2 linked regions of the Homo sapiens genome follow. The protein of the gene in region 1 purifies or fractionates together with the protein of each later gene. This does not show direct contact. Each region holds a gene or a part of one and is shown on either strand. Other genes may lie near its edges. The genes, in order: YTHDF2 and EIF4E.

Region 1 (3,821 bases):
AAAACAAAAAAAAAATTAGCCGGGCGTGGTGGTGGGCGCCTGTAATCCCAGCCATTTGGGAGGCTGAGGCAGAGAACTGCTTAAATCCAGGAGGCAGGGGATGCAGTGAGCTGAGATCGCGCCACTGTACTCCAGCCTGGGTGACAGAGCAAAACTCCGTCTCAAAAAAATAAAAATAAAAATAAATAAAAATAAAAAATTGGGCCGGGCACAGTGGCTCATGCCTGTAATCCCAGCACTTTGGGAGGCCGAGGTGGGCGGATCACCTGAGGTCGGGAGTTCGAGACCAGCCTGACCAACATGGAGAAACCCCCGTCTCTTACTAAAAATACAAAATTAGCTGGGCGTGGTGGCACATGCCTGTAATCCCAGCTACTAGGAAGGCTGAGGCAGGAAAATCGCTTGAACCTGGGAGATGGAGGTTGCAGTGAGCCGAGATCACACCACTGCACTCCAGCCTTGGCAACAAGAGAGAAACCCCGTCTCAAAAAAAAATAAAATAAATAAATTTAAAAAATAATAATAATAATAAAGATATGAGCTGGCATGAGTTAAAGTATATATAATAGGAAAAAAAAAAACAAAAGTTGGTTCTTTGAAAAAATTAAGATTACTTTGTACCCCATAAATATATACAATTATAAATTGTCGGCCAGGCTCAGTGGCTCACGCCCATAATCCCAAAAAAAAAAAAAATTGGCTGGGCACAGTGGCTTACGCCTGTGATCCCAGCACTTTGGGAGGCTGAGGTGGGCGGATCACCAGGTCAGGAGATCGAGACCATCCTGGCTAACATGGTGAAACCCCATCTCTGCTAAAAATACAAAAAATTAGTTGGGCATGGTGGCACACACCTGTAGTCCCAGCTATTCAGGAGGCTAAGGCAGGAGAATCGCTTGAACCTGGGTGGTGGAGGTTGCACTGAGCTGAGATCGCACCACTGCACTCCAGCCTGAGCAACAGAGGGAGATTCCATCTCAATAAAAAATAAAAATTAAAAATAAATAAAAAACTAGCCAGCCCTGGTGTCAGGCACCTATAATCCCAGCTACTCAGGAGGCTGAGGCAGGAGAATTGTTTGAACCCAGGGGGCAGAGGTTGCAGCGAGCCAAGGTCACGCCACTTCACTCCAGCCTGGGCAAAAGAGCAAAACTCTGTCTCAAATAAAAACATTAAAGATATTAACTATGAATAAATTAGGAAACTACAAGTCCAGACAGATCTGGTCTGTGGCTTAAATAACTAGAAATAATGTCGACATCTCTATCCACCCATCCACCTTAGGCCCTCCTCACTTTAAATCTATGATTACAAAATAGAAAACTCGGCTGGGTGCAGTGGCTCATGCCTGTAATGCCAGCACTTTGGGAGGCCGAGGCAGGTGGATCACTTGAGGTCAGTAGCTCAAGACAGGGCTGGCCAACATTGTGAAACCCCATCTCTACTAAAAATACAAAAATTAGCCAAGCGTGGTGGCACATGCCTGTAGTCCCAGCTATTCAGGAGGCTGAGGCAGGAGAATCAATCACTTGAACCCGGGTGAGCCAAGATCGCGCCACTGCACTCCAGCCTAGCCAACAGAGCTAGATTCTGTCTCAAAAATAAAAATTAAAAATAAAATAAAATAAAATAGAAAATTCAGTCTCTGGAGGAAATATACAAAAAGCCATAAGGTGGCAATGTTAAAGTCTGCACATATGCAATCTCTTCATATAATATTCAAAAACAGTAAATCTGCCTATTTAGCTTCCCTCTATTTAAGCTTAATAACCTTTCTACTTACTACTGCACTGTTCTATCCCTCCCTCTCCCTTCACTTTCAAGTGGGCCATAAAACACAACTGAGGCATATTCATATTCACCTGGATATAATTTTATTAACATTAAAATCTGGTAAATGTTTATCTCTCCCACAAAATTAAATCTATATAGCTCTCAACTAGTTTTTCCTATGCCCCCATGAACCTTGAAAGAAACCCAAAGTTCAGCACCCCAGCTGACAATATAAAATGCTTAGACGGGAGTCATTCTTTGAGACGGAGTCTCATTCTAAAATTCTTTGAGACAGAGTCTCGCTCTGTTGCCCAGACTGGAGTGCCGTGGCACAATCTCCACTCACTGCAAGCTCCACCTCCCGGGTTCATGCCATTCTCCTGCCTCAGCCTCCCGAGTAGCTGGGACTACAGGTGCCCGCCACCATGCCCGGCTAATTTTTTGTATTTTTAGTAGAGACGGGGTTTCACCGTGTTAGCCAGGATGGTCTCGATCTCCTGACCTCGTGATCCGCCCGCCTCAGCCTCCCAAAGTGCTGGGATTACAAGCGTGAGCCACCACGCCCGGCTAGGAAAATGTGTTTTTAAAAGTGATGTGATGACACAAAAATTACTTCCATTGCTTGATATGGTTTAATAGAATCAACCTTTATAGTCTCCAATGCCGTGAATAAGTTAAATAAGTCTAATGACTTGACTTTAGACTTCAAGTCATATATATATGAAACATCAAGTCATATATAATTAAGATGCTAACTTCCCCCAGATAAAGAGACAAAGTATTTTTCATCAGTTCTCCAATTTAAAGCAAGGCTATAATATTTTATTAAAAATATCTATTTTGGCCATGGTACCTCCTGCCTACAAGCCCAGCACTTTGGGAGGCTGGGACCAGCAGTTTGAGACCAGCCTGGGCAACATACTGAGAACCTGACTCTACTAGAATTTGAGACAGAGTTTCGCTCTTGTTGCCTGGAATGCAATGGCGCAATCTCGGCTCACCGCAACCTCCACTTCCCGGGTTCAAGCGATTCTTCTGCCTCAGCCTCCTGAGTAGCTGGGATTACATGCGTGCGCCACCATGCCCAGCTAATTTTGTATTTTTAGTAGAGACGGGGTTTCTCCATGTTGGTCAGGATGGTCTCGAACTCCCAACCTCAGGTGATCCACCTGCCTTGGCCTCCGTTATGTGCTGGGATTACAGGCATGGGCCACCGCACCAGCCAGAAATTTTTAAACATTAGGCCAGGCATGGTGGCTCACACCTGGAATCCTAACAATTTGAGAGGCCAAAGGAGGAGGATCACTTAAGCCCAGGAATTCAAGAACAGCCTGGGCAACACAGTGAAACCTTATCTCTCCAAAAAGTTTTTTTAATTAGCCAGGCATAGTGGCGAACACCTGTGTGGTCCCAGCTACTTAGAAGGCTGCAAGAAAAAGTATGCTTAAGCCCAGGAGGTCAAAGCTGCAATGAGTTGTGATCAGGCCACTACACTCCAGCCTGGGTGACAAAGTGAGGCCTTCTCTCAAAAAAAAAAAAAAAAAAAAATACACACACACACACACACACACACTCATGCACGATATAATGACATTTCAGTCAATGACAGATCAGTAAGATTATAATGGAGCTGACAAATTCCTATCACCTAGCGATGTCGAAGCCACTGTAAGGATGTAGCACAAAACATTACTCACTTGTTTGTGGTAATGCGGTGTAAACAAACCTACCGCACTGCAAGTCGTATAAAACTATAGCACGTAAAATTATGTATAATAAATAATACTTAATAACAAATTCGGCCAGGCGCAGTGGTTCACACCTGTAATTCCAGCACTTTGGGAGGCAGAGGCAGGCGGATCACCTGAGATCAGGAGTTTGAGACCAGCATGGCCAACATGGTGAAACCCTGTCTCTACCATAAATACAAAATCAGCTGGGTGTAGTGGCACGCGGCTGTAGTCCCAGCTACTTGGGAGGCTGAGGGAGGAGAATCGTTTGAACCTGGGAGGTGGAGGCTGCAGTAAGCAGCCAAAATCACACCACTG
Region 2 (3,821 bases), on another chromosome or scaffold:
TTTGTGTGTAGGGGTGCAGGATCTTGCTCTGTTGCTGGGGCTGGAGTGCAGTGGCGCGATCATAGCTCACTGCAGCCTCAAACTCCTGGGCTCAAGAGATGCTTCCATCTCAGCCTCTGGTGTAGCAAGCACTACAGGAGCAGGCCACCACGCCCGGATAATTTTTAAACTTTTTGTAGAGATGGAATCTCGCGATGGTTACCCAGGCTGGTCTCAAACTCCTGGACTCAAGTGGTCCTCCCACCTTGGCCTCTCAATATGTTGGGTTACAGGCGTGAGCCACCGAGCCTCGCCTGGATTTTTTTTTGAAGCAACTGATTAGAATTGGATTGTACTTGAGATACCCCTGCTGAAGGCTGCAAAAATCATGTTTTTTCTTACTTCAGCTAGTTTGTGAGCTTCCATAATGGTTTTCTGCTGTGCATAATCATAAACACTTAAAAAGAGCCATGGGCTTTTCCTGCTTATCCCATCATGCATAGGTATCTGGATGATTTTTGTCTATGGACATTACATAAAATATCATTTTCAGTTTGATATTATTGTGTGGTTTTCTCTTTGTATGAGTTGAGTTACATGAAGATGTGGCCCACAAATATTAAATTTGTTGAGAAGCTTGAAAGGGAAAATTAAGGGAAACATTTTACCTCTTAACGGATAATTTGGCAAAAATTTGAACGTTAGGGCAAACGGTACTCTGATGTTATTCTATCGGCATTTGAATTGTGGCTGGGTCAAAATTAGGTTTAATATTAGTCTGTGAAAATGGCAAGGCCATCTTACCTCCAGTAGGTCGTGTTTCTTTGTAGCTTTATCTTCATTCTACATCGTTCATTATTAGAATTAAAAAAATTTTTTTTTGACTTGTAGTTCCTTTTGAGGTAAGAGATTAATTTTGATTTCTTTAGCTTAACTGAAAGTGTATAATTTTACTTGTTTTTACATTGTAGCTCTTGAATTTTTTGAAACCACGCTAATTTCATAAGTGAATCAACTTGGACAATCAGCTAATTTAATGCTTCCTTTTTTATACTTTGGAAACATGCTCTGTACTACACAGCTTATTAATAAGAGTAAATAAGGTTTATATACATATTGACAAATATTTGTTGTACTATATAATTCATATTAATGAACAATTGAATGCCAACCAGACTATGCAAATTAGTGGACTTTTTGCTTAATGAAAGAACCCACTATATCAGAGTTCCTCGATAATCCACGTAAATTTGGCTCTGGGGTTCATATTCCAGATTTCTTCAATTAAAAGAAAAAAATATACTTGCTGAGTGCGGTGGCTCACGCCTGTAATCTCAGCACTTTGGGAGGCCGAGGCGGGTGGGGATCACTTGAGGTCAGGTGTTCGAGACCAGCCTGGCCAAAATGGTGAAACCCTGTCTCTACTAAAAATACAAAAATTAGCCAGGCCTGGTGGCAGGCGCCTGTAATCCCAGCTACTGGGGAGGCCAAGGCAGGAGAATCGCTTGAACCTGGAGGTGGAGGTTGCAGTGAACCGAGATGGTACCACTGTACTTCAGCCTGGGCGACAGAGCAAGACTCCATCAAAAAGAATAAAAAAAAAAACAGAAACAAATTTCACACTTCATTTTATAATCTGAGTTAATGAGCATGATTATTAGACTTAGAGAAATTCAATGTAGACACACAGTTTATACACAGAAGTTGCAGAGGGATAATATGCAAAATGAATTATGTAAGCTTACTCTAGTTTGGACAGAAAACTGTAGGCAAAAAACATTTAAGTAAAATATTGTTTAATTTACATAAAGTTAAGAATATGGGCCGGGTGCGGTGGCTCATGCCTGTAATCCCAGCACTTTGGGAGGCCGAGGTGGGTAGATCACCAGGTCAGTAGTTTGAGACCAGCCTGATCAACATGGTGAAACCCCACCTCTACTAAAAATACAAAACTTAGCTGGGCGTGGTGATGCGTGCTTGTAATCCCAAGGTACTCAGGAGGCTGAGGCAGGAGAAGCTCTTGAACCTGGGAGGCGGAGGTTGTAGTGAGCTGAGATTGTGCCACTGCACTCCAACCTGGGTGACAGAGCGAGACTCCGTCTCAAAAAAAAAAAAAATAAACAAAAGAAGTTTCCTTAATCTATTAGTACCGGTGAGTTGCACCATCTTAGTCATAGAGACTTTTTTGAGAAGTGGAAATGAGCATGGGTTATAGTCTCATCTTAATATCTGAGTGATCTTGAAGACTGAAATTTCTAAGTCAGCTGAAAGTCGGAATAAGATATATTACGGTGATTTCAATTTTTAAATGCAGTATTCAAAGGTGACAGTTTGTCAACTGTAAGGGACTAAAGTTGACATTCCATGAATGTTTTATACTCATGTATATCCATGCATTTACATACTATTTTCCCTCTTTTCTTGGAAATTCACATTGCTGCTTTTTAATTATCAATCCTTAGCCATTAGCAAGAAATGCAAAGCCTGTGATTCACAATCCTAAGATGTTCTTCCCACTCCTATCCCTACCATAAAAATCACTAGTGTTCCTTCAAAAGTCCCTAATCATGTCTCCAGAAAAAGAAAGGGGCTGGGCTTGGTGGCCCACACATGTAATCCGAGGCTTTGGGAGACAAAGGCAGGAGGATCACTTGAGCCCGGAGTTTGAGACCAGCCTGGCCAACATGGCGAGACCCTGTCTCTCCAAAAAATTAAAAAATTAGCTGAATATGGTGGTGCACACCTGTGTCCTAGCCTCAGGAGGCTGAAATGGGAGGATCCCCTGAGCCTGGGAGGTCAGAGCTGCAGTGAGCTGTGATCACACCACTGCATTCCAGCCTGGGTGACAGAAAGAGACCCTATCTCACCAAAAAAAAAAAGAAAAAGAAAATGATTTTGCGTGTGTGTGTGTGTGTCTAAAATACTAATAGTCATTTCTGGGCACTTCTGGAACCTGAGAATGTGGTCAGAAATATAAGGGGTTTTTTTTTTTTTGTTTCCCCAGTTGGAACTTTTGATACATTATTCCATAGAAACAGTAGGAAAATGGGCCGGGCGTGGTGGCTCACGCCTGTAATCCCGACACTTTGGGAGGCTGAGGTGGGCGGATCACCTGAGGTCGGGAGTTCGAGACCAGCCTGACCAGCATGGAGAAACCCTGTCTCTACTTAACAAAATTACAAAATTAGCTGGGTATGGTGGCACATGCCTGTAACCCCAGCTTCTTGGGAGGCTGAGGCAGAAGAATCGTTTGAACCTGGGAGGTGGAGGTTGCGGTGAGCCTATGTCTGCCATCGCACTCCAGCCTGGGCAACAAGACTGAAACTCCTTCTCAAAAAAAAAAAAAAAGAAAAAAGAAAAAACAGGAAAATGAAGTTTAGTCACACTATATTCAGTAAATTTTTGTGGAATCATTACAAATCTAACCAGCATTGGATTTATAGGGATATGGAATTAAGGATATGGATTTATAGTTGTAAGCAACTAACTAAAAAAACCTTATAAACATACCTTGTTTGTAACAGCTATTTTTAATGTAGAAAGATCGTTATTTGTAATTGCTACACATAGCACTTATTCTATGTTAAGTACCACACTGAATGCTTTACATATATTAACTCATTTATTTCTTTTTTTTTTTTTTTTGAGACAGCGTCTCACTGTTGTCCCAGCTAGAGTACAGTGGCGCGATCTCGGCTCACTGCAACCTCCGCCTCCTGGGTTCAAGTGATTCTCCTGCTTCAGCCTCCTGAGTAGCTGGGACTACAGGCACGTGCCACCACGCCCGGCTAATTTTTGTATTTATAGTAGAGATGGGGTTTCACCATATTGGCCAGGCTGGT

Evidence for each region.
Region 2: the proteins of YTHDF2 (region 1) and EIF4E purify together in Homo sapiens (affinity purification with western blotting, with the first as the bait; one study listed by BioGRID). This does not show direct contact.

The regions. Positions count from the first base shown.
Region 1 is NC_000001.11:28,760,632-28,764,452, reverse strand, and holds part of YTHDF2 (YTH domain-containing family protein 2), read right to left. Parts: intron 1-3,821. UniProt on the Homo sapiens protein: Specifically recognizes and binds N6-methyladenosine (m6A)-containing RNAs, and regulates their stability. M6A is a modification present at internal sites of mRNAs and some non-coding RNAs and plays a role in mRNA stability and processing.
Region 2 is NC_000004.12:98,922,357-98,926,177, reverse strand, and holds part of EIF4E (eukaryotic translation initiation factor 4E), read left to right. Parts: intron 1-3,821. UniProt on the Homo sapiens protein: Acts in the cytoplasm to initiate and regulate protein synthesis and is required in the nucleus for export of a subset of mRNAs from the nucleus to the cytoplasm which promotes processes such as RNA capping, processing and splicing.